Linked DNA regions of Homo sapiens. The protein of the gene in region 1 purifies or fractionates together with the protein of each later gene. This does not show direct contact. Each region holds a gene or a part of one and is shown in the gene's direction. Other genes may lie near its edges.

Region 1 (7,457 bases):
GAAAAGGGGAGTGTCTGGGGACATAAGCCCCAAGCAGGGAGCATTCGGACACAGTGTGACTGTAGTGGAAGGAGGAATGGGATTGCAGTGAGAGAGGGCCTTTCACCACTACTTTGCCAAATAAGAAACTCAGGGTCTGAGAGGCTCAGGGACCTGCCTAGGTCCCTGCAGCAAGCCAACAACACCAGTTTCAGGCAGCTTACCTACAAGACTCACTTGGTTAGTGACTATTTCACTATGGCTGTGGACACACTGTGTCCTAATGTCCATTCTGGCTGGTTGTGCAAGCCTCTCCGTTCACCTTTCAGAGACCCAGTATCCTCATAGGTGAAAGGGTCTGAACGGTTCCTGCTTTCATTCCACCTGCAGTCCCCTGCCTCTTTCACCTCTGACCTGACCTTGTCTAAGGGGGGACACCCTGGACCTCCTTCACTGCTCCTCCCAATTCTTGTTGAGACTTCCACACCTGAATCTGGAGAGGGCAGCTTCCAATCTGGGGCTCCAGGTTTTAAGAACCTGTGGATGTGAGAGTGAGGTGCTTACACACTGTGAAGGAGAGCTTGAGGCTCTGTAGCTCCATGCATGGGAGGGTCTTGCAGACTGGGGCATTGTCCAAGGGCCGAGGACAGATGGACAGTGAGGGGAGGCATCCAAGCACCAGGTAGAATCTACTAACATCGATCAGGGAGCTTGCCAACTGGATGGGAAACTGCTTCCAGGCTGGGAGGTATTCAGGCTTGGGGAATCATGAACGAATGAAGGGGTCCAAGGACATCCTCAGGGGACGTGAATTACAGGGGCGGGGGCCCAGGATGCTGGATAGGTGTTCACTGAGACAGCTGACACCAGCAGGGCTGAAATTACAGGGGCAGGGGCCCAGGATAGGTGTTCACTGAGAGAGCTGACACCAGCAGGGCCGAAATTCCAGGGCCAGAGAGTAGTGTATGTGTCACTGAGGCTGCTGGCAGGGTTAGGGGTGTAGAGAGGATGCAGACATGAGGGAGGAACTCCAGCCACTGCATTGCCTGACACCTCAATGTACCTCTCTGGGAAGTGGGGGTGATGAGATATGCATGGTAAGACTGTCAAGAGAGTTCGGAACAAAGCTTCCAAATTGCTGGTGTTGTGCCAAGCCAAGCTATTTGGTAGCAGTGTTGGTGCTTATCTTTAATATTGATTACAATGACACTATGGGGGAGCAAACCCTCACTTAGCCCTGCCCCACTGTGGATTCAAATCAATGCCCCTCTTAGCCTCATCCATTTGTGAATACAACCCAATTACCCAGCTGGGCACGGTGGGTCATGCCTGTAATCCCAGCACCTTGGGAGGCAGAGATGGGCGGAGTTTGAGACCAGCCTGGCCAACATGATGAAAACTTGTCTCTACTAAAACTGCAGAAATTAGCCGGGCGTGGTGGTGGGTGCCTTTAGTCTCAGCTACTTGGGAGGCTGAAGCATGAGAATTGCTTGAACCCAGGAGATGGAGGTTGTAGTGAGCCGAGCTCGCACTACTGCACTCCAGCCTGGGTGACAGAGCGAAACTCTGTCTCAAAAAAAAAAAAAATCATTTAAAAAAACCCTAATTACCCCTTTTAGCCTCATGTAATTCAAGAATTAAGTCAATTTCTCTCACAGCCCCACCCAATTCATTAATTTAACAAAAGATTGTATTTATTTATTTATTAGAGACAAAGTCTTGCTACATTGGCTAGGCTGGTCTGAAAATTCTGGCCTTAGTGATCTTCTCACCTTGGCCTCCCAAAGTGCTGGAATTACAGGCGTGAGTCATCATGCCCAGCCTGTTTTGAGAATTTATATTTTATTTTTTTTAAAGACAGGGTCTTGCTCTGTCACTGAGGGTGGAGTGCAGTGGCATGATCACAGCTCATTGTAACCTCTAAGTCTTGGGCTTAAGTGATCCTCGTGCCTCAGCCTCCCAAGTAGCTGGGACTACAGGTGCATGCACTACACCCAGCTGTTTTAAGTTTTGAAGGGGTTGAGATATAATTGACTTCAATTTGATAGGTTTTGAATATGTTTATGTCAGTGAAACGATCACTACAGTGAAGATACTGAACAGGCTGGGTGTGGTGGCTCACCTCTGTAATCCCAGCACATTGGGAGGCAGAGGTGGGAGGATTTTTTGAAGCCAGGAGTTTAAGACCAGCCTGGACAACATAGTGAGACCCCCCCACCCCAGTCTCTACAAAAATGTAAAAAATTTGCCAGGCATTGTGGCACATATGTGTAGTCCTATCTGCTCAGGAGGATCCCTTGAGCCCAGGAGTTTGAGGTTACAATGAACTATGATTGTGCCACTGCAATCCATCCTGCATGACAGAATGTGACCCTGTCACTTAAAAAAAAAAAAAAGAAATACTGAGTATAACTATCTCTGCCAAAAGTTTTCTCCTGCCCTTTGTATTTCCTCTTTCCTGCCCTTTTGGCCCCCTCCCTCCAGGCAACCACTAATCCACTTTCTGTCACTGTATATCAGTTTGCATTTTATTAGATTTTTATATAAAAGAAATCATACAGCATGTGCTTTTTTGGAGCGTGGGTCTGGCTTGTTTTACCATAATTATTTTTGAGATTCATCCAAATCCTTCATTGTTTTTTATTGCTGAGTTGTATTACCCTGTATGTGTATACCATAGTTTGTTAATTTATTCATCTATTTTTTTCATTGAAAATTGTTTTCTTTTTGAGAGATGGGGTCTCACTATGTTGCCCAGGCTGGTCTCAAACTCCTGGGCTCAAGCAATCCTCCTGCCTCCACCTCCAGCCTCCCAAAGTGCTAGGATTACAGGCATTAGCATTTTTAAAATAGAGACAATGTTTCTATGTTTTTAAAATAGAGACAATCTTTCACTATGTTGCCAAGGCTGGTCACCAACTCCTGAGCTCAAGCGATCCTCCCACCTCAGCCTCCCAAAGTGCTGCGATTACTGGCCTCATTCAACTATTAATGGACATTTGGGTTATTTCCAGTTTTTGGATATTAACAAATATTATGGACTGAATTGTGTCCACCCATAAATATATATATATATATATATTTGTTGTTGTTGTTGTTGTTGTTTTGTTTTTTTGAGAGAAGTCTCGCTCTTATCCCCCAGGTTTGAGTGCAATGGCTCGATCTCCACTCACTGCAACCTCTGCCTCCCGGGCTCAAATGATTCTCCTGCCTCTGCCTCCCAAGTAGCTGGGATTAAGTCACCTGACACCACGCCTGGCTAATTTTTGTATATTTTAGTAGAGATGGGGTTTCACCATGTTCGCCAGGCTGGTCTTGAACTCCTGAACTCAGGTGATCCACCCGCCTTGGCCTCCCAAGGTGCTGGGATTACAGGCGTGAGCCACTGTGCCCAGCCATAAATATATATGTTAAAGCTCTAACCTCCAATGTGACTGTATCTGAAGATAGCTTCTTTAGGAGGCAACTAAGGTAAAATGAGGTCACTAAGGTGGAGCCCTAACCAGATAGGACTGTGACCTTATAAGAAACAGAAGAGAGAGATCTCTCCCTCTCTCTGTGTGTGCCTCTCTCACGCCTTTACTCTCCTTCACTCTCTTAATTCCATGTGAGGACACAGCAAGAAGGCAAGCATCTGCAACCCAAAAGGAGAGACCTCACCAGGAACCAAATTGGCTACCACCTTGATCGTGGACTTTCCGGCTTCCAGAACTGTGAGAAACTTATGTTGTTTAAACCACCCAGTCTACGATATTTTGTTACAGTAGTTCTAAATGAATAAGACAGGAAATAAAGCTGCTATGAATATTTGTAAGACAAGGCTGTGTAAATGTATGCTTTCTTTTAGATAAATACGCAGGAGTGGAATGGCTGGCTCATATGTGTACGCTTAGTTTTTAAAGACACTACCAAACTGTTTTCTAAAGTTGCAGGCCGGGCACGAGTGGCTCACGCCTGTAATCCCAGCACTTTGGGAGGCTGAGGCGGGCCTCGCCTGTAATCCCAGCACTTTAGGGAGTTCGAGACCAGCCTGACCAACATGGAGAAACCCCGTCTCTACTAAAAATACAAAATTAGGGGGGCGTGGTGGTGCATGCCTGTAATCCCAGCTACTCAGGAGGCTGAGTCAGGAGAATCACTTGAACCCGGGAGGCAGAGGTTGTAGTGAGCCGAGATCGTGCCATTGCACTTCAGCCTGGGCAACAAGAGCGAAACCCTGTCTCTAAATAAATAAATAAAGTTGCAATATCATTTTACATTTCCACCGGAGGTATAGGAGTTCCATTTCCTCCATATCTTCAGCAACAGTTGGTATTGTCAGGCTTTTAAATTCTAACTAGGACCTTTAGTTAACAGAGTGCGGCGCCTGCAGCAGAGTGAGGCCAAGCACTCCTCCTGGCTCCTACAGCCAGGCCTCCTTGCTGGCCGCCAGGTAGGTCACCGCGCGGGTCCGGGAGCCAGGCACGGGACCCGCCAGCTTCAGCCTCCAGGGCCTGGGCGGGCCGCCAGGTGAGCGCGCCCCAGAGCTCAAAATTCGTAGCTGGCAGCCCTGCGTCCACCCGGCGGACTACTGGCCATGGAGCCGCGCACAGGGGACGCCGCGGACCCTAGGGGGAGCAGAGGAGGTACAGGGATTGGGGTCGTTGGGGAAGGACAGGGCGAGTCGCCGCCATCCCCGTCCCGCCTGTCTGCTCCACACCTTTTCCTTCTGACAGGTGGTAAACAGAGCGGCTCTGGCGCCCAAGTGAAGGTGGCAGGGGGCAGGGGCCCAGCGATGGAGGCTGGGCTGGAGGTCCCCTACCCACACCCACACACGAGGGAAAGGGCCGCGCACCAGAGCAGGGGAGGGGCTCTCAGGAGTCTCCAGGGAGACGTGCAGATGTGCGGGGAGGGGTCTGCCCGTGGTCACTGGGGACACCTGGGCACTCAGGGTCTTAGTGAACTGGGGGGAGGGGAGCTGGGGGCCCCTGGGGACCTGTGGAGGGGGACTCTGGAGGTATGTGGGCCATGGGGGGAACGGGCCCTCTGAGGGAATTCATGGGGGTAGCAGCGGTTGCCTAGGATACTTAGACGGGGAATTGGGGGTTCCGGGGCTATGGGGTCAGGCCGTGTTCTCCCAGGATATCTGGGGAAATGGGGTCCCCTGAGATATCGCGGGCGAAGAGTTGGGCATCCAGGGTGATTAGGGGGCAGTCGAGGACCTCACGGGGTGTTCGGAGGTGTCTAGGACTATTGCAGTCAAACAGCGATCTCCAGGGACACCGTGGGAGCAAGCGGGGGTGCACCGGCTACCCGCGACGGTCGGGGATCGCGTGAGGGGAGGGACAGCAGTGACCTCCGAAACTATCGAGGGAGTGGCCAGGGGTCGCCGGGTATCCTGAGGGGCATTTCTAGGTCTTCGAGCGTCCGGAAGCATAGGGGTTGGCCGAGGCCGAGGGTCGGCGTTGACCTGTCCCCTCTTGCGCGCAGGCCGCGGCCCCTCCCCGCTCGCGGGCCCTAGCGCCCGGCAGCTCCTGGCGCGGTTGGACGCGCGCCCCCTGGCGGCGCGAGCTGCGGTCGACGTGGCAGCGCTGGTACGCAGGGCGGGCGCCACATTGCGCCTGCGCCGGAAGGAGGGTGAGTGACTGGCGCAGGGCCTCCGCTGGGGGAGGGTTCGGAGAGGAGTTGGGTTCAGTGGGACAGGCCTGGGGGGTCAGCAGCTACTGCCCTGTCTTGGGTGGGGCCAAGGGGCGCGACTTGGGGCGGGGATCGGAGGGTGCTTCGAGTGGGAGGAGCCTTGGGGTTATTCTAGCATATTCCTTGAGGGTTATTGCAGTCGGCGAGGGCTAGATTAGATGAGAGTGCGGAACTGGACCCCCGTTCTGGCGGCGGTCCTTTTTGAGGAGGCAGGGCCTGGAGAGTGCTTGGGGGGCGGGCACGCAGCGAAGGGGCAGGCCTGAAATGTGAGTCACGGGGGTGGAGCCTATAGTCCCATGGGGGCGGGGCTTGAGATGTCAGGAATGGGATGAGGGTTAGAGGCTAATTAGAGGGCGTGCTATGGAAGGTTCAGGAGCCAAATTTTGGAGTAGCATTCTCCAGGGTGGGCCGAATGGTGTTGTTTGAGGGATGTGTTCTGCGTGTTATTAGAGGGAGATAGGAAGGCCTGGAAGATTATTCACATGGCTGAGCCCAGGATTGTTTATTAAGAAGGTGGGGTCAGAACAGTTAATTTGTTTGGGCTGAGAACCTTTAAGATTACTTGAGGGGATGGTGCGTAAATGGTGGGCCAGTTTGTATATGAGCTGCAGGGGCAAGACAAGTAGATGAGGCTAGAATGTTAACTCAGGGAACAGGTCCTAGGTAGTTTCCATGGCATGTCCCCCAACAGCCCTCTCCACTGCTTTTATCTCCCAGCTGTTAGCGTGCTGGACTCTGCGGACATAGAGGTCACAGACAGTCGCCTGCCTCATGCCACTATTGTGGATCACCGGCCCCAGGTACCATCTCATCCTTCTATCGGAGGCCTCCTGCCTCAGGGCAAACTATGTACACCTGTGTCCTTTATTCCAGCACCGTTGGTTAGAGACATGTAACGCACCTCCCCAATTGATCCAGGGTAAGGCACGTAGTGCTCCGAAGCCATCCCAGGCCTCTGGTCATTTCTCTGTGGAGCTGGTTCGCGGTTACGCAGGCTTTGGCCTCACCTTAGGTGGGGGCCGGGATGTAGCTGGGGACACTCCGCTGGCCGTGCGCGGGCTGCTGAAGGATGGCCCAGCACAGCGCTGTGGTCGTTTGGAGGTGAGCCCTGAAGCCCCTTCCACTGGTAGGTGCTATCCCTGCCTTTGTTGGGGTGCTCTCCTTTTGCCTTTCCAACACGACTGCATTGCACTCCTCCAGGTCGGGGACCTCGTGCTCCACATCAACGGAGAGTCAACGCAGGGCCTCACCCATGCCCAGGCCGTGGAGCGGATCCGAGCTGGAGGCCCCCAGCTCCACCTGGTTATTCGTCGGCCTCTGGAGACCCACCCTGGCAAGCCTCGAGGGGTGGGAGAGCCCCGAAAAGGAGTTGGTGGGTTTCCCAAGGGAGAGAAGTCAGAGATCAGTGAGGAGAAGGGAGAGGTTCACAGAGTGGAGAAGCTGAGATTCTGGGTGGGAAGGGTTTGGTGGTCTCTGTGGGGAGGGTCTGCAAGAGGTCATGGTATTCTCACAAGTAGGGGCAGGGAGGGGTACAGGGTCCCAGGATAGGAATAACGTAGGGGCAGGGAGGGGTGTCAGTCTCGAGGATAGGAATTTCAGAGGGTGGGTTTTCCAGGTACTGGGGGAAGAGAAGGGAAGGGGTCTAGGATAAAAGCAAGTGTTTGGAAGGAAGGGTCTTAGTTCTCAGAGGCGAAGGCAGAGTGGATCTTAGCCGGGGGAAAATGGGATGGGGATCCAGAGGGTAGGGGGTCTAGTTCTGAAAAACAAAGGGTCGGTGGTTTGGGAGTCAACGGAGGTGGGAT
Region 2 (7,034 bases), about 83 Mb from region 1:
GAACCACTTTTTTCTTCTCTTGAAAAAAGTATAAAGGTACATCAGAGTCACAATTCTCAGGTTGCGAGTGCCTAGGTTCTATACACAAATACAAGTTATATGAACCTTTCCTGGAACTCCTCTTCCCTCACCAGTATTGTGGGAATTTATTTCCTCTATTTCCTAATGTAGACTTCACTGCTAACCAAGACTCTCAGCTTTCTGCTCACAGTGCCTGCTGGCCATCTATGTCAGGACAGAGTGGATGTCAAGATTAGTGGAGGAAGTGGTAGGGGAATATTGTTCCTCCCTTTCTCTTACAAATTCTACATAGTGTCAGCATATGGAAAGGAGAATCATTTTGTCTTAATTAACTGAGCCCTCCCTTCATGATCGCTAACCCTAGGCCACATCCCATTCCCCACACTACAATGTCAGTTCCACTCTGATTCTTCAACCCTCTCCCATCCCCTAAGCACTCATCATCATGTCACTGGGTTCCATTCTCTGCCTTGATAAAGTCACATCCTCATGGAGATGCCTGGAAATTTTAAATTGGACTCCTGAATACCTCCCAGGGATTTTTGAGTTTGAGGGCTACTGGCAGTAGCTTGAGAATCTTCACCCCGCAGCTGGGGTTGTAAAGGTGAGAAATGTGTTTCTGGCATCCCAAGTTGAGGCACCATGCTGAATATATTTTCCTACTTGAAATATTGTTAAGATATAAATAGTAGTGAGTTTCTCTGGTACTTTTTATGCTATACTACGAATGAATACATTTGTGTGAAATTGTCTTTTGGGAGGACTACCCCAGGAACTTAGACATTATTTTTATGGGAAAATGCTTGCTTTTAAAATTCTGAACATCTTACTTAAAAACCAACTTTTGGAACACAGTCCAGTCACTACTTGGCTGCTGCCAGTATAGTAAAGCCAACCATTCTACTTCCAGTCAGCTCTTTGGTCCCACAAAAATTCAGAGAATACCACTCATGAAATGGTATGGAGAGAGAGGTGTCCCTTGTATTTAAGCTATAGCTAAAATAAAAAGGGTTTAATGGTTTATTCCAGTGTTTAACTGATGGTACTGAATGGTATGTGTGTGTGTACACCTGTTTTAGAATTTGTATACATATATTCCTCCCAGGAGCCCCATTTCCTCTTGTTCAGCTCACAGGGAAGTTAATTCCACCTGGAGAAAGCACAGATTTTTAAAGCTACACTCTCCCTTTTTCTTATCCATTTACATCAGAGGTAAAATGAACAATATTCTTTCTAGGTTCCGTGTGTGCCAAAAATGCCCATTAACCGTAGCTGATAAAAGTTTGAAGTACATCAAAACAAATGAAAGCCAACAACTGAAATAAGGCAAAATATCCATTGTCCTCAAACTCAAACCCAAAATTTCTACAAGCCCTCATTTACCTCCTCATTCTTTAATGTAACTATCTTTTCTTTCCAATATCATTCAAGATAATTATTTAAAGCTTTGTTTTTTATAAAAATTACTAATAGTTCAACAATAACAAACAGTACTTTTATTTGTTTAGCTATATCATAGGCAAAAAGGTATGCGGGTAGTCTAAGCTCAGAATTTTAATTTGGAATGTTCTATGGAAAAAATATATTCGGGGTTCCCAAGCAACCATTTTTAAACCTACATTTTAGAATCTGTTCTTTATTTTTTTAATTTTTAATTTTTGTGGCTACAAAGAAGGTGTAAATATTTATGGGGGTACATGAGCTATTTTAATAAAGGCATATAATGTATAATGATCACATCAGGGTACATTTACTCTCTGTGTTACAAACAGTCCGGTAATACTTTTCTACTTATTTTTAAAAGTATAATTAAATTATTATTGACTATAGTCACCCTGTTGTGCTATCAAATACTAGATCTTACTCATTTTCTCTAACTACTTTTTGTACCCATTAACCATCACCAACTCCCCCTCCCTACTATCCTTCCCAGCATCTGGTAACCATCCTTCTATTCTCTATCTCCAAGGGTTCAATTGTTTTAATTTTTAGCTCCCACAAATAAATGAGAACATGCAAATAGAATCTGTGCTTTAGTATGTGAGATTTAACATTTTTGCTAGTATGTTATTTTGGCTCAGGTTTGTAATTATTAAATTGTTTCATGGCTTTACAGGGGTCTAAATTATGGATAATAATGGAATACCTGGGCGGTGGTTCAGCACTGGATCTTGTAAGTATTTTAAAATAGTTACACACAGATGCAAATGTGTGCATATGCACATACCTTAATTTTTTAAATTGAAGATTAATGGCTTTTGAGCACGCTAAGTGGTTGCTTTAGTTAATATGTTCAAATTAAATTCTTTTTTCATGACCTCTACCTTATGTAGGTACAGATGTATTGTACGTTTGAACATGTTGCTGGCATTCTAAGACTATATAAGAAATGCAAATAGCTTAATAAAATAAAGTCTCCCAAATTAGAAGGGGATGTGTGTATCCATTGCTGTCAAAGTTTGACTTTTGCAAGCTTATCCCTGAAAAAACTGAGTTTTCTTAGATTTTTAAAAAATATGTAATTGAGATAACTGTCACTAAAAGTGTTTTTTATGAACTGAATGTTTGTGTCCCCCCAAAATTCATATGTGGAAATCCTAACCCCCAATGTGATGGTATTAGGCGGTGGGGACCTTGGGACCTAATTAAGTCATGAAGGTGAGTTCTCATGAATGAGATTCGCACCCTTACAAAAGAGGCCCCAGAGAGCTCTCTGACTTTCTTTCCACCACGAGAGGGTGCAGTGAGAAGAAGGCCTTCTGGAAACCAGGAAGAGTGCCTTTACCAGACTCGAATCTGCCAGCCCCTTGATCTTGGACTTCTTTCCCAGTCTCCAGAACTGTGAGAAATATTGTTTAAGCCACCCAGTCTGTGGTATTCTGCTATAGCACCTGAATTGACTAAGATAGTGGTACTAGGGTTCTAAACAAGGTTGGCCTACAGATCCAGTTCTTCACAGAGTTCTCTCTGCCCCTCTATAGGTTATTTGGAAATGTGATGGCATTTGGGTTGTCACAATGACTTAGAAGTGCTCCTGCCATTTTTGTGGTCATGGATCAGAATGCTAAAATCCTGCAGTGTGCAGGAAAATTCAACCCAATGAAGATGCATTTACACACAGAATGCCTTTGAGAAACACTGGTTGTTCCCCAATTCAGTGTGATCCTATCAATGTTGAGTTTCTTTCCCTTCCTTAAAAATCTTTATTAATATGATACTATGTTTTAAAATTCAGTATGACTTATGAGAGGCAACTTAGTGTAGTAGAATGACCACTGGGCTGGCCTGGGGTGTTTGAGGTTATAGGTCTGGCTCTGTGCCTGTGAACCAGACACAAACTTCCTGGACGTAGGTGTTCTATAAAACAAAGAAGTTGCACTAAGTTATTTCTAAGTTCCCTTCCATCTTTAATATTATATTTTTTTTATTTGCGTGTTTCTGCCTTAGAAATTATAGAGTATGCTGTTTCTAAGAAAGTGTTTTGATTAAAATAATCAAGTAATATTTTAATTCTTATTTTTTTAGGTGGAGATGAGTTTTCCTAACTGAAAGTGATTAAATATTTTTAAAAGGCTTTAACCTTGACTGCCAGTAACTCAAAGCTTCAAATAATTTTATGAACAGAAATGACTATAAGAGATTTTCTTTCCTTTAGGCAGAACCATATTTAAACCATTTTAAAGAAATGGTAATTAAACTTGATGGAGAGCCTCATCTACTACTAGGAATTCATGTCAGTTTAATCAGTTGCTGAATTTGGTAATCTTTCCTTGTGTCTAATCTAATTCTTATATCCTAAAGCCTGAGTTCATTTTTTTTCTCTCGTCTCTAGTGAGAGAACACCACTGATGTTTCTTTGTGTAATAATCCTTCATGCATATGGAGTCAGGCTTCATTCTCCTCTTGAAGTTAAATGATCTCATTTCTATTTGTCTTGTCACAGAGTCATATTATTCAATAGTTTTTTCATTAGCTCTACAAGAAGCCTCTCAATTGTTTCATGATCCTCCTTCCATTTTTTGAATATTAAGAGCCCTTTCCAAATTTATCAGTTGTCTTATCTGGTTCCTCAGGGTGCTCACCATATCTCTTCCCCATTTTGGAAGCACTGGCAAAGCTAGGCCACTCTGTTCAACAGGATCACTGATAGCAATGTTAAACAGTGAACACTGGCCTAACCCCAACCAATGACCCAAATCTGTGTCCCCTATTAGTAGTTTGGTCAGTTTTATGAAATCTCCAAGTTAAATGATTGTGAGATCTTAATCTCATCCTGCTATTCTGAACTCTACTTAATAAAACAAATAGCCATTAATAACAGTTTCAATGAATGAAAAATGTTGTTAGTACTGTATTGGTTAAGAATCAAAAGGCCTAGGTCATAAACCCAGTGCTAACACTGACTGCCTGGCAAATATTGGGCGGCCCTTTAGCCTCCTTGTGTCTTAATTTATTCACATGTTAAATGAAGAAATTGAATCAGTAATCTCTAATTTTGTGTTCTTAGCTCTAAAATTCAATAATATTGTGATTTAATTATAAAACTCATTTAACTAGACTTTACAGGGAGAGCAGATAATGAGAAAATGTGCTATTCCTTTTTCATGTATATTCCTGTACAAATAAATGCTATCATTTGGGGGAATCTAAGACAGGATTAGGTGTAGAGGAAGGCTCTGCTACTAAGAACAAGAGGAAATAAGAGGGATGTTTAGCAGAGAGTGTTTCTCACATTAAACTGGTGCCTGGTACCTAACTAATGGAATAACATAAGATTACAACTTGTCATTTATGTTAACATTATACAGTGTCTACCTTGAGTCACTCCCATTCTTGAAAAACAATTTATTGTATGTGAGCAGACTTTGAGTATATTGCACATCATTTTATTGAGTTTATTATGCTCCACTTCTTTCCAAAAAGAATCGTGGTGGCTTGCAACAAAAACACATATAATAAGATGACTAGAATAAAACATGAGCCCCAAGAAAAAAGAAACAATATGCTAACCATAAGAGAGGGCATAAAATAGCAGACTGCATTAGGGACTGGCTGGAAGTTAAATTGTGACAAAGATCCATGAGCTCACAAATGTACAGTCTTCGAAAGAGTCAAGGTCCCTCTCTTGCATATTCTTACTTGACAACAGAGGCAAATTACACAAGGCAAGTACACTGCCCTGGGACAGAGATATTATCTGTTAGAGACATGGCAAGTTCTTCAGTTATCGGAGAAAAGTTCAAATGGAGAAGTCTCCCTGCCACAGAGTCTTTCTTCCCATCCTCCTCTAGCACCCAGTTAATTGAGATTTCACTTTTATTGAATTTTAACATGAACCTAAAATATAGCAGATAAGCTCATGAATCTTTGGGATCCCCTTTTTGTTGTTTTTACTTAAATATTTTTAAAAACTTCTGTATTAGGTAATATACTGGCTTATTTATGTTACTTTTACATGTCCTTCAGAATGATAGCTAGTAGGTCGTACATTAATCTTGCCCAATCACTGAAATAACCAAGGATATACCTCCCCTGGTCTTGCCAATGTCCTGTGATCAGATGATACTAATTACTGATCTTAAGTAGTGTGACATTTGTCCTTTAGTTATTTTGTAGTACCTCAGAAGTTCATTGCCAGCCATCAACAAAATAGTATGCCATTTTCAACCTTTCTAGAAGACTTTAGAAACTATTTTAATCACTACTGTTTGAATAGAAACTTTGGGGTGGAAGTTGATAGATTTGAAAGTAAGTAGATAATGTTACCTAGGAAAGGGACCTATTGAATTACAGATATCCCTGGAGTATACTATATACCCAGACCACAGTTAATATTAGATGGTGAGACCAAAGTATGAGTTCTATTTTAAGCTGTTAAATTTCAACATGAAAGTGCCCTTTATTCAGCATAAATATGGCATTCATGAAAGATGAAATACACAAGGTGCCAAAGAGCTGTGGATCCCTCCCAGTGTGAGGCAGAGTGGGCAATGTTTGATTTTCACCACCTCTTCCCTCCTTCCAGAAGCAAACAGAACTCTACCTCTGCTCTGACTTTAGATTCCCACCCTTTCCTGTAATAATATTGTACAGTCCACTGTTTGTGCTTTATGAGGTACCAGAATTTTAAAATAACCATTTATTTTAAAGAGGGATTTTCAGATATTCCATTACAAGTTCTCCTGAAACCTAATCATTGCTTTCCTTGTATTCCAGTTGGAACTATTGGCTTTGGTACAGGGATGGGGAAATAAAGGGATATGTGTTACATTTATTTGAAAAACATTATCCCTCCATGATTTAATTTTTTTTTACCATCATAGTCTGAATAGTTTAATTATTATATTCTTGGCTAAATTTACAATTTGAGTCTCAAAAAGGCTATTCTTTGCAATATTATTAAAATACATAAATGCTGACTGATATGATCAAATAGTTGCTGTGGAAATCTTATGGATTCTCTGACCTAAAAATCAGTTTCGTGTCAATATGTAGTAACTTTTTCACAGCAATTGCCTGAATTTAAGTAGCTGATTTCTCTTTTTTTCCATCTAAAGAACAGATAGTTGGTTCTGTCATTACGTAAGCATATTTGTTTCATCTTTGATGTAAATATTCAGGAACCTCAGAATTTGAAGCCTAGTATATAGGTAAAAGGGCTCGTATTATCTTTCATTAAATTGAATCATTAAAAAACCTGTTCAGCCCTTTGACTGAACTCTTTTGCTTTCTTCCTTCACATTTTACATTTTTCCTTCCTTGTTTAGATATTGGTTTGATAAACAGAACGGCATCATGTGTCTAAGTGATTTCTTCATTTCAAAGGTACCAATTTTGAATTTTATGTTTCCAAACTTTTACACATATGTGTATGTGTGTGTGTGTTTTTCCCCTTAAGCTTCGAGCTGGTCCATTTGATGAGTTCCAGATTGCTACCATGCTAAAGGAAATTTTAAAAGGTCTGGACTATCTGCATTCAGAAAAGAAAATTCACCGAGACATAAAAGGTATAC
Region 3 (7,000 bases), on another chromosome or scaffold:
TGTCAGGTATTGTTCTAAGTGCTCAATTTATTTAATTCTCACAGTAACCCTATGAAGTGAACTATTATCTCTACTTTTTGGTGAAGAAATTGAAACACAGAGATACGATAACTTTTAAGTTCATTTAGCCAGCAAGGTGGAAAACTACGAATATGTGGTAAAAAATAATATTGTAGACTATTGGAGAAAGTGGCTTGTTCAATGTATGGTGCTAGGACTATTGGTTATCCATTTTTTAAAAATGTTTTCTGCCTCATAGGCTAAAAAAAATCAAAGGAAATCTAAATGACAAAGAGCAATAAAAATTCTAAAATAGAAGAAAATGTAGAATACTACTTAAAAATATGTATGTACCTAGATTGAAAAGAATCCTCCGTGCATGATACTAAAGAAGTAATAAAGGCGGGTGGGTCACTTGAGGTCAGGAGTTCGAGGCCAGCCTGGCCAACATGGTGAAACCCCGTCTCTACTAAAAATACAAAAATTAGCCGGGCATGGTGGCGCGTGCCTATAATCCCAGCTACTTGGGAAGCTAAGGAAGGAGAATTGCTTGAACCTGGAAGGCGGAGGTTGCATTGAGCTGAGATCGGGGCCACTGCACTACAGCCTGGGCGACAAAGTGAGCTTCCGTCTCAAAAACAAAAAGTAATGAAGGAAAAAACGTGGCCGGGCGCGGTGTAATCCCAGCACTTTGTGAGGCCAGGAGGGGCGGATCACGACGTCAGGAGTTCAAGACCAGCCTGACCAACATGGTGAAACCCCGTCTCTACTAAAAATACAAAAAAAAAAAAAAAAAAATAGCCGGGCCTGGTGGCGAGCACCTGTAATCCCCCCTAATGGGAAGGCTGAGGCAGGAGAAACGCTTGAACCCGGGAGTCAGAGGTTGCATTGAGCCAAGATCGCACCACTGCACTCCATCCTGGGCGACAGAGCGAGACGCTGTCTCAAATAAATAAATAAAGGAAAAAAACGTTTTTTATATGTGTGATAAACGTCTGCGTTCGCAGTCAGAATTTTGTTTACTGGTGTATTTGATTTAAGATTATTAGAAAGTTGAAAAACAAGAATTAGGGTGGTTCTCTGCGTCACCAAAGAATTGTTTAAATGTGTAAGAAAGTGGTATGAATCATTGTTAAGAAACGATTTCATTGGTTGAATCACAGAAAAGTGGCTGAAGGAAGTTTCAGTGGCTTCTGTGTTTTCAAGCTGTTTTCCTTTGGAGGAAGCAATAAAATTTAATTTAAGATTGTGCTATTGTATATGCTTATTAGATTTTGCTGAATACTTAAATGTTTTTGTTAAGTCTCGGGAATAGTAGTATTGCCCGCTGTGGCTATCTGAAATTATAATGTAAGTATGAAAATGATTTATGTCATTTTTTACTGTTACACTGATTTACATGATACCCAGGAATTGATTTATTGTATCAAGTGGAGCACAGTGGGCTTTTTTTTTTTTAATTAAGTTCTGGGATCCATGTGCAGAATGTGCACATTTGTTACATAGGTATACGTGTGCCATGGTGGTTTGCTGCACCTATGAACCCATCATCTAAGTTTTAAGCCCCACATGCATTAGGTATTTTTCCTAAATGCTTTCCCTCCCTTTCCCCCCACCACCAACCCGGGTAACAGGCCCCAGGTCCTGGTGTGTGATGTTCCCCTCCCTGTGTCCATGTGTTCTCATTGTTCAACTCCCACTTATGAGTGAGAACATGTGGTGTTTGGTTTTCTGTTCTGGTGTTAGTTTGCTGAGGATGATAGCTTCCAGCTTCGTCCGTGTCCCTGCAAAGGACATGAACTCATTCTTTTTTATGGCTGCATAGTATACCATGGTGTATATATGTACCACATTTTCTTTATCCAATCTGTCATTGGTGGGCATTTGGGTTGGTTCCATGTCTTTGCTATTGTAAATAGTGCTGCAGTAAACATATGTGTGCATGTGTCTTTATAGGAGAATGATTTATATTCCTTTGAGTATATACCCAGTAATGGGATTACTGGGTCAAATGGTATTTCTGGTTCTAGGTCCTTGAGGAATTGCCATACTATCTTCCACAATGGTTGAACTAATTTACATTCCCACCAACAGTGTAAAAGCGTTCCTATTTCTCCACAGCCTCGGCAGCATCTGTTGTTTCCTGACTTTCTAATAATCACCATTCTGACGGGTGTAAGATGGTATCTCATTGTGGTTTTGATTTGCATTTCTCTAATGATCGGTGATGATGAGCATTTTTTCATATGTTTGTTGGCCGCATAAATACCTCCTTTTTTTTGGCAGCATAAATGTCTTCTTTTGAGAAGTGTCTGTTCATATTCTTTGCCCAGTTTTTGATACGGATATTTGTTTTCTTGTAAATTAGTTTCACTTCCATGTGGATTCTGGATATTAGACCTTTGTCAGATCAGTAGATGGCAAAAGTTTTTCTCCCATTCTGTAGGTTGCCTGTTCACTCTGATAGTTTCTTTTGCTGTGCAGAAGCTCTTTAGTTTAATTAGATCCCATTTGTCAATTTTAGCTTTTGTTGCAATTGCTTTTGGTGTTTTCATCATGAAGTCTTTGCCCATGCCTATGTCCTGAATGGTATTGCCTAGGTTTTCTTTTAGGGTTTTTATGGTTTTGGGTTTTACATTGAAGTCTTTAATCCATCTTGAGTTAATTTGTGTATACAGTGGGCTTTTCTTGATATCTTAACGTTTTTGAAACCTTAAGAGCTGCAGAAAATGGCCAAGCTAATGAACAAAAATTAATGACAAGAGTCAGTCATTACATATAGGGATTGTTTCTTGAGTGAGTGATGCAGTGTTTTAATTATGATAGTTACTGATCAATGCATACTTGCTTCATACTGTTTTAAAAGTGAAAAACTCACTGTAGTTTGTGAGAAGTCACTGAAGTTTGGCTGCCAACTTTTAATGATCCTCACTGTAGCAATAATTTTTGTGTGTGTTTGGCATTTTAGACCATCATGGTTAAAGCTTTAATTTATATAGTTGGCTGATAATCCTAACTACATTTTACAACTCTTACATTTGTTTCAGGACAGCTTCATAAGATAGTTATGTTTCAAATTGTGGTGTTCTTCCCCCCCAGGTTATATATTGGCACAAATTACATTATATTATTAGGAAAGACACCAATTTGCCAGACTCAAGCATGTAATCCCTGCACTTTGGGAGGCTGAGGCGGGCATATCACCTGAGGGCGGGACTTCAAGACCAGCACAACCAACACGGCCGAAACCCCGTCTCTACTAAAAATACAAAAATTAGCCGGGTGTGGTAGCACATGCCTAAAATCCCAGCTACTTGGGAGGCTGAGGCAGGAGAATCATTTGAACCCAGGAAGCAGAGTTTGCAGTTGAGCCAAGGTTGCAGTGAGTCGAGATAGCACCACTGCACTCCTGCCTGGGCAACAGAGTGAGAGTCTGTCTCAAAAAAAAAAAAGGAAAGACACCAATAAATAATGAGGTGGAAACCAATCTGTGGCTTCGAGGGCTGTAACGCAGTATATGTAGTACTGCTTCCCGTTTGATTTGAAGGAAAAAAAGTACAGTAGTTCCACTCCCTTTTTCCCCTCCAATCCTGGAAACAAGGTCTGGCTCTGACTTTTACTTGCTCTTTAATCTCTTTTCTGTTTAGAGACCAAATGTAAACTCTGTACAGTTCTAAGAATAAAACTGTGTATAAATATGATAGATCACCATGCTGCTAAGGAAAATGTCTTTAAAAATAATAGTTTTGGTGGAAAATTTGAAGACGTAATCCTGTTACTTGACATACCCCTGATATGATAAAAATTCACCTTACTGAAAGACCATGAGTCCAGCTGTAAATTCATGTGTAGTGCCACCCATCTGTGACTGCTCAGTCATTGCTCATTTCAGGCCTGCCTGAAAGCATTCACGTGCTCAGCATTGTGTATGACTGAGCATTATAGTAGCTGAAGACAAGCTAGTGGAATGAGCCAGTCATTTCTAATTAGCAAAGTTTTGATATGTTAAATAAAAAGATAGTTTATGTCTAGAATGATCCTCCTGGAATATTTGACTGGAACTTGCTTTGCACCTCTGAATTTTGAAAGCAAATCTTGAAAAACCTTTTTACTTTAACAACTTTTAGTCTTGTAGAAAGAAATAGACATTAGGATAGTTTACAGATTTTAAAGTTAATCCTATAAAATTGGTGTGTTGCAGTATTTCTTGCATAAGCCAGCAATAAAAATAAGACTTTTGCTCTCTCTGACCTAGAGTGCATCTTTATTTATTTATTGCAGAGAAGAGTGGCTTCAGGTTGCTCCTTTATGGGCTAGCCAGGTGCTTTATTTCCATTCCTCTTAAACAGATAAATTCTTAATAATGAGCAGTATGTGGGGAATACGTGGGTAGGGAGTTTTATCTTATATCCTAAGCATGGATGAAAATAAATGGACTCTGAATGATTGCCTTTACCACAAGAACACAGCTTTAGATCATGAGAACACCAATGTTACCAAACTTTGTACTGTAAAACACCATTTGAAATGTGATAACAAAACCCTGTCATATATGTAGTGCTCAATACTGAATCTCAGGTGGCCCTCACTTTGGGATAGATCAAGAGATAAGGTTTTATTAGTTTGTGTTGCGGATATATTTCAGTTGATATACTGAAAATACTGGGAAGTGAGTTAACTGGTGAATGATCTCAATTCTAGTTTATCATGTCCGGAAAGGAGGTAAAACAGAAGCTGATATTACTTTCTGTGGATTCTAATTAGGAACATAAGATTAGCGTATACCTGGTTTAATTAATTTTTTTTGACTTACCGAAATATTTTTTCCTTTTTAAAAAAATGTAAATTCCCAAAGACTGAAAAGTTCATTTTTCTTCTTGGTTATCTTAGGAATTTTCACGCTTTTGGAATTGTCATTATCTTGGAGATTGTACAACAGTTTCTGGTAACTGAATATCACCAGTTAAACTTAATATAAGATTAGCTCACTTAATTTAGTATGTAATTTTAAAATTCAGGAGGATACCAGTAATGACTAATTCTTTTTGTTAGCTTAACACATATTAAATGAGTACATTTTGTTTGGGATCCCGATCCTAGAAATTTACAGTTTTCAACTGCTATACGCTGTAATGATCACTTTGTGAATTGTGTAACTCATTGTTGAAGAAACAAAGGATTTGCATTGTTTACTCTTAAAAATACGAGCAAACTTATGGTCATCCTGTAATAACAGAGCATTCTTGTGTGCTTTCTTCGTTGGAGGAGGTGACAAAGTCATTTTCTAAACCTGGGCTTGCTGTTTAGCAGAGTTTCTGTATTTTTCCTTGTTAATGTTTTTAAATGTTTGAATTGAATCTGGATACATTGATGTAAGTGTTTTCTGCATATGTTTGGTATCAATATCTCAATAGGAGGGAGACATTAAGAATTATAAAGTAATTGGCTTATATGCTTAACAGCTCCTTGAATATACTGACAAGGCAAATGAACACTATACTAGCTGTTACTGTTACATTTAGGGTTCAAGAAGCTGTGAAATATGTAACAATTTGGATTCCTAAAGCGGAATTTTACATTCAGCAGATATTTGTTGGTTACCTCGTGTGTACCAATCACTGTTGTAGGTGCTGGAGATGCAGCAGTGAACACATCTCTGTACTGATAGGGCATTTTAATGGTGCGGGTAGAGAGCAGCAAATAAAATTCTGTCCATAATGATAAGTGCTAGAATCCCTAACATGCCTTTTCTGGGTCATATCCTCCCTTCTTCAAAGATTGCATGTATCTTGTCTTCTAGGTTTCTCATTTTCTAGTTTTTCTTTATAGTTACCACCTAATTATGCATTCTGAAAGCACTAGTTTTGACTCTCTGAACTTTGCGCATACAGAATCTTCTAGTGTGAATTCTGTTGTATATGGCTTCTTTTGCTCAGCATTATGTTTGTAAGATTATGTTGTGGAGAACTGTAGCTCATTAGTTTTCATTCAGTTCTTGTACTTCATGGTATTCCATTGTATGAGGACTTTATTGGTTTCGGGAGAAAATAGTTTCAGTTAGACTTCTGTGGCTTTTTGGAGAAAAATATTGTATATGTCTGTCTGAGGGGCAAGAATTAGATATGCATTATGAGGCAGTCATTGGAGTACCAACAGCTGAGCAAAAGGTAGTAAGCTTCTTTTGGTGTTCCTATGATTATCTTGAAAAATCAAGTTGGTCTTAGTTTGGAGGATATTTTATGACTAAGATGTTTGTCATACTAAAGTATGTTTTAGTAGTAAGTATTGAAGTATGTTTTAGTAGTAAGATATCCACTTACCTGACTGATCAGACCACCAAAAGCCACAATCAGGGGAAATACATGAATCTGGCAAAAATGAGTCTGCCTTTCAAAATATAATTGTGGAAGTTTTTCCTGGTAATGTCATATAAAGGTACTAAGGAAGGTTTATTTACTGATTTTTTTTTTCTAACAGTGGCAGTTATTGGAGTATTAATACTTACTGGAGTGTTAATACAGAAGTACACTATTTTGATGCTGTATCACCTATAAAAATCAAGTCAGTAGCCATGGCAAGTAGGCTTACATTTTAGTTATAAGTGTGAGAAATATGTGTCAAAACAAACAGTAGCCCCTTATATTGCATGCTGACTCTGTGACAGATACTGAGCTAAGTGTTTTATGTGCATTATCCCATTTAATCTTCACAATTCTGTTAGATACTACGATTATCTCTGTTTTTACAGGTGAAGGATCTGAGGTTAAATTTACTTGCCATAGGTAATCATACATCTACTTACATGTTCTATAAGTCATACATTCACATCCTTTTATGTTCGTGTGTTGTAAGAGAGCACCAGGGAGAAGAGTATGGGATGGTGTTAGGTAAGTCTTAGACCAGAAAAGCAGCATGAATCATGAAAGCCAGAAGAGAGGGCACTGCTCCATCAGAGCACAAGCCAGTTTGTCTAAAGGAAGCAGCTCTTGCTCAGCCCCAG
Region 4 (7,034 bases), on another chromosome or scaffold:
GAAGCAGGCGTTCGCAAGCAGGCGTTCGGCCGCCTGCTTATTATCTGTCCCTGAACCTGAAAGCAAGTCCTCGGGCCTCTGAGTAAAATCAAGGCAAGCGCATCACCGACGTACTCTCAGCAGAGATCGGCTTCTGCCAGGGCCTGCCTGCCAGTCACCGAGTGTGTTTAGCTGGTTGAGAGGTGCTTGGAGGTCTGGAGGTGCATCCGTCAGAGATCATGTTCAGTAGCACAATAGGGTGACCGTAGTTAATAATTTGTTGTGTTTCAAATAGCCAGAAGAGAAGATTTGGAATATCCCAGCACAAAGGAATGAGCCGTGTTTGAGGTGAGGGGGATCCCAGCTACCCGGATTTGATTGTTACACACTGTATACTTGTACCAGAAAAAATTCATATAACTATTATGTACCCTTACAAATGAGAAGGCTCTGGGTCTGTGTGGCCAGGAGACAGCATGCTTTGAAAACAGCAGTAGCTGTAATGAAATCTGAGAGGCCTGGGGGAAGCAGACAGATGTGGAATCACACAAACTTGAGAGCCACCTGTTGGTGTGGAGAACCGCTGCCACACAAGAGTCACAATTGCCACCTCTGTTCTTGCCTCTCCCCTCCTCGGTCCTCCCTCCTTGTGCCTGCTCACTCCTGTCCTCCTGTCGCTGCCACAGTTCTGGGTGCTTGCCCACCCTGTGCTCCCATGCACCTGCTTCCCTGCTCCTAGGGGCAAGAGACTGGGATCAGTTGCATTTCTGCTGATTTTTAAGATAATGCAATGCAAGATAAAGCAGAGTCCAAGTTGTAGAGGGAAGGAAAATAGTATTACTTCCAACGTCAGCTCTTCTAGACTGACCCCTTCAGTACAAGATTTAGTAGAAAGAATTTAGAACAAGACTTGCTGGCAGCTTTTCATCTTCACTGAGAATAAGGAAATAGAATATGCCGTAGGCATCATTCCCATGGACTGCTGGGCTTGGGGGCTTCCAGTAGGGATTTCTGGTACTCACTAAGGCTGCAGGAACATGGTAAGTGTATCCTCTGGATAGTTAAAGCACCCTGCAGCCACAACGATGCTTCCGCCTATGCATTTCCTTGCTGTAGAGTGAGTGTGAGAGATGTATTCGATTCTCACTGAAGTTCTTGGAATAATGATGGATTCCAGTGCACAGTGAGAACAGCAGGAAAGCTGTACCAGACTCAGGCGTGTTCTCTACCCCAGTCCCCATTCGTCTTTCGCCAGCCCATATAGGACTATGTCCTGCCTCATTGTCGGCCTCTGTCCTGTTTGGGGATTGGTGTCACATGCTGTCAATGTCTCATCAGCTGTCAAGTTCCTCTTAGGATGGCCTGGCTCTTCTCATTGACATGACACATTCAAGGAATTCATTCCTTTGCCTAACTGCTTGGTTGTGCCACAGGCCTGTGCTGGGCAGAAGGAGGTGGGGCAGCTGGACCTGAGATGTCCTAGTGGGGCCACACGGCTTCTGCAGATGTCTCCTCTGGGACATTCGGCAGAAAATGCAGACACTAGAGAGACACAGTAAATGACATCAGCAAGAAACCACCAGACAAATCCCGAATTTGGGACCTGTTTCTTTAAGTTGATGTCCCTGGGGAGACTGGGGACAGGACTGTTGTAGGTTGAAAGAGCCTTAGCGACCTGGCAGTCAGTTGTACCCCGTGGACTTTGGATCCTGATTCAGATAAACCAACCATGGAATGACAGTTTTTGAACAGCTGAGAACATTTAATTATACATGACATTAAGGAATTCGTGTTAATTTCAGGCACTGATAGGTAGTAAAAAGTCTGTATATTGGCACACGGAAATACTCGGGGGAAAATGTCATGATGACTGATTGATTTTAAAATATACTCGGGGAACACATGGACAAAGCTCGTATGGCAAAATGTTAATTAGTAAATTCATGCAATAGGTAGATGAGGATGCATTATATTAATATTTCTCAGTTCTTTGTATGTTTGAACATTTTCATAATAAACTTTTTTAAGTTCTGGGCCCCTGGTAAGGCACCTTACATGGCCACCTCCTCCTCTTCCACCTCCATTCTACAGATGAGAGAAACAGGGCTCAGAGGTTAGCTCTTTCATCTAACGTCACAGGACTTTGACTGTAGAACTGGCATTTCAACCCAGGTATCTTGAGACCAAGGTGCCCACTCTCGACCTCAGAGCTGTGCCCTAAGTTCTAAGCACTGCTGGAGGGGGTGACTCGCGAGCGTACACCCACTCCGGACTCCTCCTCTCTGCTCACCTCTCTTACTGGTCCTGCTGGCCCCCGGGACTCCACGGGGAATGCCGAATGCATCCAGCAGGAGGCGTAGTAGGAGTGAATTGATAAGCCATCTCCATGTAGAGGCAGAAAACATTTGGCATATTACAGTTTCTCCTGTTGTCTCTTTTGAAATTACAGCGAGGGCTTATGTTTTTAAATATCAGTTAAAAATACCTTTTTCAAAACCTCAGAAGTATTGAGACATGTTACCATTTTCCCCCTAAATACTGTGTATTGGAATAGATTCCTGCTTGGTGTTTGTAAAGATGCTTTTCTTGTTGCAGGCAGACATCTGGTCCCTGGGCATAACAGCTATTGAACTTGCAAGAGGGGAACCACCTCATTCCGAGCTGCACCCCATGAAAGTTTTATTCCTCATTCCAAAGAACAACCCACCGACGTTGGAAGGAAACTACAGTAAACCCCTCAAGGAGTTTGTGGAGGCCTGTTTGAATAAGGAGCCGAGCTTTGTAAGTTTCCCAGGGATCACAGCGTACCTCTTCATGTGCGGCTTGACTTGGTTGAGATACATCCTGTTGGGATTGCTTTAATCACTCTTTTCAGCTGTCTTCCTGGTATTATTCATTTTTCTTTTTCTAAGTAAGTATGATTGACTTCTTTGGTTTGCAAATACATTTTAATTTTTAAGTATTAAAAATCTCCTTATTTTCTTTTAGATTTCTGCCATCTCATACTTCATTGAATCTGAAGAATATTCTCCTTAATATTAAATGTGGAATCATAAATGTTTAATATTTATAGAAGATCAGGCCATAAACTGTTACACTGTTTTTAATAATGGCAAAGGTTAGCTGGAAACAAATGGCTAAATATGTCTTTAAAGTAAATGTTTTCACTTTCCAGGTGGCATGTGTTAGGAAACAAAAGATTAGAAAATATAACCAAGCCACCCTCTGTGCTTCTTCCCCTCCCCTTCCTGCCTACTTTCTCTTTTTAGGTTTAATAGACTCTGGCAGAGCCATACAGCAGTAACGACTGTGTGGCTTTGCCTCATTTTCTGTCTGAATTAGGACATTTCTTTGAAAGTAGTGTGTGTGTGTTGGTGTTGGAGGTAGCACCATATGTCCTTGTTTTGTTTCTGAGTTTTCCAGCAGAGTTAGCTGAAGGCTAAGCTGAGCCCCCCTTTTCTTAACTCTTATGTAAAAATGGGTGGTTACTTTTACAAGAGCACCATGGTTTCCTAATATGCCAGTTCTGGTAAAGGAATTAAATGGGTAATGCAACATTTTCTAAGTACGTCTAAGGAGATGCAGGCTGAGACCACCACACCAGTGTTTGATGACTACATCAGCATCGGGTGGTGGTGGGGCTTGTCCTGCATGCCACGATGCTCTGCATTTTATTACACGATGATGTTTCTTGCAGCCATCATGCACCAGCACCAGTGGAGATGTGTGCAGGCATGTCTTCCCATACAAAGCATGTGTCCTGTATGGGCTTATGCCCCAGCACACAGAGCTCCACCCCACAGCTACCGAGGAGCTGGCTGAGAGGCGAGAATATGAGCACCTCCGGGGTAGTTGGGGTTTCACCCTTGGATGGACAGGGAGGGAGAATACTTGAGGTGATCCACGTTTCTCATGAGTTTGAATCTGAAAACATGCTTGGCTCTTGTAATCAAGCTTTTGTAATTTGGAGTGAGTGGGAACTTGGTTCGACTCGGTGTTTGGGTGTTCCTGCTGTCTGTTCCCATTTGGGCCATGCTGGTTTCCTTGGGAAGCACATTCCCTGTCACTATCGCCATCCTCAAGGCAGGCAGCTGACCAGGTGCTGCTTGCGGTGGCCATGCTGAGCCCAGGGCATGGGTGAAGTCCTCAGCCCAATCACAAGGGAAGGGAGGGAGGGACCTGGGAAATAGCCCTTCTAAACCGGGAAAGTTGGTGGTGAAGCGCATCCAGTTGCTCTTTCAGCAGACAGGAAAAAGGGGATCTCCTGGCTCCTTTCCAGTTTCTCTGAGATAATTCCAAATTGACATTTCTATTATATGGTTGGATGTGGCCAAACGTTAATACAGAAAGTTAACAAAGCAGCCCAGCATGGTGGCTCACATCTGTAATCCCAGCACTTTGGGAGGCCGAGGCAGGTGCATCACCTGAGGTCAGGAGTTCAAGACCAGCCTGGCTAACATGGTGAAATCCCGTTTCTACTAAAAATACAAAAAATTAGCCTGGTGTGGTGGTGCAGGCCTGTAATCCCAGCTACCCAGGAGGCTGAGGCAGGAGAATCGTTTGAACTGGGGAGGCGAGGTTGTAGTGAGCCGAAATCGTGCCACTGCACTCCAGCCTGGGCAACAAGAGCAAAACTGTCTCAAAAAAAAAAAAAAAAAAAAGTTAAACAACACAGAACATATATTTTGTCAGCATTTGTCATAAAGTATTTTATAAACTAGGAGATAAGCTTTTTTTTGAGACAGAGTCTTGCTCTGTCGCCCAGGCTGGAGTGCAGTGGCGCGATCTCGGCTCCCTGCAAGCTCCGCCTCCTGGGTTCACGCCATTCTCCTGCCTCAGCCTCCTGAGTAGCTGGGACTACAGGCGCCCACCACCACGCCCGGCTAAATTTTTTTGTATTTTTAGTAAAGACGGGGTTTCACCATGTTAGCCAGGGTGGTCTCGATCTCCTGACCTCGTGATCTGCCCGCCTCGGCCTCCGAAAGTGCTGGGATTACAGGCGTGAGCCACTGCGCCCGACCAGATCATTTAAGCTCTCTTAAATGATCCCTGTGAAGCTCTGTGCAGAGTTTTCTGTGAAAATGTATTTATTAGGGACATCCTTGGAAAGACAGTGCCCTGCCCACCATAGCACCCAGAGCCCAGGCGTAGGTCCTGAGCGACTCGTCTTTGGGTGAGTTGCAGTGAGAAGCGCTGTGGAGTAGAGAGTCCAGCCATCAGGTGTCAGTGTGGCGGTTGACATTTTGAGGCAGAAGTCTGTCCTTTGGGGTAGGACCAAGAACTTCATCTCATACTTTAATTGTTGGGTGTGTTTTTCCAGAGACCCACTGCTAAGGAGTTATTGAAGCACAAGTTTATACTACGCAATGCAAAGAAAACTTCCTACTTGACCGAGCTCATCGACAGGTACAAGAGATGGAAGGCCGAGCAGAGCCATGACGACTCGAGCTCCGAGGATTCCGACGCGTAAGTCGGCCCCTGAGTGACCCAAGCATGTGTGTGGGAGGGATCCGCTGGTCTTTGTCACTGTTTGGTGTGGGTTTCGTTTTCTGTTGAGTTTTTTTTTTTTTTTAGACAATCCAGGTTGGTGGCAATTGTTGTGTTAGACACAGCCTGGGCCTGTTTGGGAGTTGTTTAGCCTCTTGACGTTGCTGGTGGAGTTTCTGCGAGTGAACTCTTGTGGTAGAGCTGTGCATGGGGAACTGGACCTGGCTGTTTCATTCTGTTTTGTTTCGTTCTGTTCTGTTCTGTTTTCCATTAAACTTCCTGTTTGTAAAACCCTGATCAGGTGAAACTGCTTTACATGGATGTCTGAAAGGCCAGAAATGCATGTGTTTGTGATTCTGTATTGTGTCTGGTAGAAGCTTCTGTACCAGGAGTGGCTTACTGAGAATTGCTGTCAAGTTTGGCATCTAGGAATTCCCTTGGCTTAAGAGGCGGAGTGGGGCTGGAGCCATTTGTGTGGGGAGGGCTGGGGGAGGTGGTCGGGCAGACTTGTGTCTGGAAGTCCGAGCGTGGGACTCGTCTGTTCTCGTGCATGCCTTGGCAGAAGTTAAAGTTGGCCCACAGTGCAGGTCCATGTGCCAGGCCAGTTGAATGAGGATTTCCGGGGATGAGACCCTAAGTGGTTTTTCAGGGTCTCTAGGTGATTCCAGTTTAAAGCCAAGGTTGAGACCACTGCCCCCGGAAGTTCTTGAGGTACTGCCATTGGGAGATTGCTGGGGTAGCAACAGGGATGACAAGAGAAAGAGACTGGAGAGAGGTTTGGAGAGCCAGGACGCGGCGGTGGATTTGGGTGAAGGAGGGAAGCCAATGTTCCAGGCTGGGGCAGCGTGGCACCAGGTGTTGTGATGTGTGGTGCGGGAAGCCGAGTGTGGGGTGAACCGTGTGTGAGTCTGAGTTGTCCAGGAGAGACGTCCAGTGTGAAGTGGCACCGAGGTGTGGAGTTCAGGTGAGAAAGCTGGGCAGGTGAAGCGGGCTTAGGGGCCACTGCTCTGTGGAGGTCACTTGAGCCGAGAGAAAAAAGGGTGTCAGTTGGGGCATGTGGGGGAGTGAGGCTGGCCCCTAGGTGTGAGGGTGAGGCTCCGCCTGTGAGTGAGAGGGGAGAGGTATGGCCGAGGGGCGGGAGGAGGTGCAGGCTTAATGGGGCCACAGGCATCAGGGGATGATCAGCAGGGCCTGGGGCTCATTGCCTCTGAGGCCCATACAGGACAGGGAGTGATCAGCACACCATCATCTCATGATGGGGGAGGGAGCGCTCGGAGGGACACGGGTGGGCTTTGGAGCGAGTGGAGGGTACCAAATAGAGGCAGTGAGTGTGAATCCCAGAACCAGGGCTGAGAGATGGCCAAGGTGAGGCCAAAGTGTTGGAATGACAGGCATGAGCCACCACACCCAACACAGGGACATCTGCTTCCCTGGTGAGAGGAGGAGCCCAGCAGAGAGAAGCTGATGTCCCAGAGATGGGCTCCCAGGGAGGTGGGGGAGGTGTTCTCCGGGAGGAGGAGGAGGGTGGGCATGCACACACTGGCACGCCAGGGAGTTGTGGAACCACC

The links.
Region 2: the proteins of MAGIX (region 1) and STK26 purify together in Homo sapiens (affinity purification with mass spectrometry; 3 studies listed by BioGRID and IntAct, with this or other methods). This does not show direct contact.
Region 3: the proteins of MAGIX (region 1) and TJP1 purify together in Homo sapiens (affinity purification with mass spectrometry; 3 studies listed by BioGRID and IntAct, with this or other methods). This does not show direct contact.
Region 4: the proteins of MAGIX (region 1) and STK24 purify together in Homo sapiens (affinity purification with mass spectrometry; 3 studies listed by BioGRID and IntAct, with this or other methods). This does not show direct contact.

The regions. Positions count from the first base shown.
Region 1 is NC_000023.11:49,158,335-49,165,791, forward strand, and holds the start of MAGIX (PDZ domain-containing protein MAGIX), read left to right. Parts: upstream 1-4,423; 5' UTR 4,424-4,555; coding exon 4,556-4,604; intron 4,605-5,448; coding exon 5,449-5,595; intron 5,596-6,372; coding exon 6,373-6,455; coding exon of another isoform or gene 6,456-6,528; coding exon 6,529-6,756; intron 6,757-6,855; coding exon 6,856-7,027; intron 7,028-7,457.
Region 2 is NC_000023.11:132,061,296-132,068,329, forward strand, and holds part of STK26 (serine/threonine-protein kinase 26), read left to right. Parts: intron 1-2,137; coding exon 2,138-2,194; intron 2,195-6,919; coding exon 6,920-7,028; intron 7,029-7,034. UniProt on the Homo sapiens protein: Serine/threonine-protein kinase that acts as a mediator of cell growth. Modulates apoptosis. In association with STK24 negatively regulates Golgi reorientation in polarized cell migration upon RHO activation.
Region 3 is NC_000015.10:29,812,469-29,819,468, reverse strand, and holds part of TJP1 (tight junction protein 1), read left to right. Parts: intron 1-7,000. UniProt on the Homo sapiens protein: TJP1, TJP2, and TJP3 are closely related scaffolding proteins that link tight junction (TJ) transmembrane proteins such as claudins, junctional adhesion molecules, and occludin to the actin cytoskeleton.
Region 4 is NC_000013.11:98,462,102-98,469,135, reverse strand, and holds part of STK24 (serine/threonine-protein kinase 24 isoform b precursor), read left to right. Parts: intron 1-2,574; coding exon 2,575-2,760; intron 2,761-5,299; coding exon 5,300-5,445; intron 5,446-7,034. UniProt on the Homo sapiens protein: Serine/threonine-protein kinase that acts on both serine and threonine residues and promotes apoptosis in response to stress stimuli and caspase activation.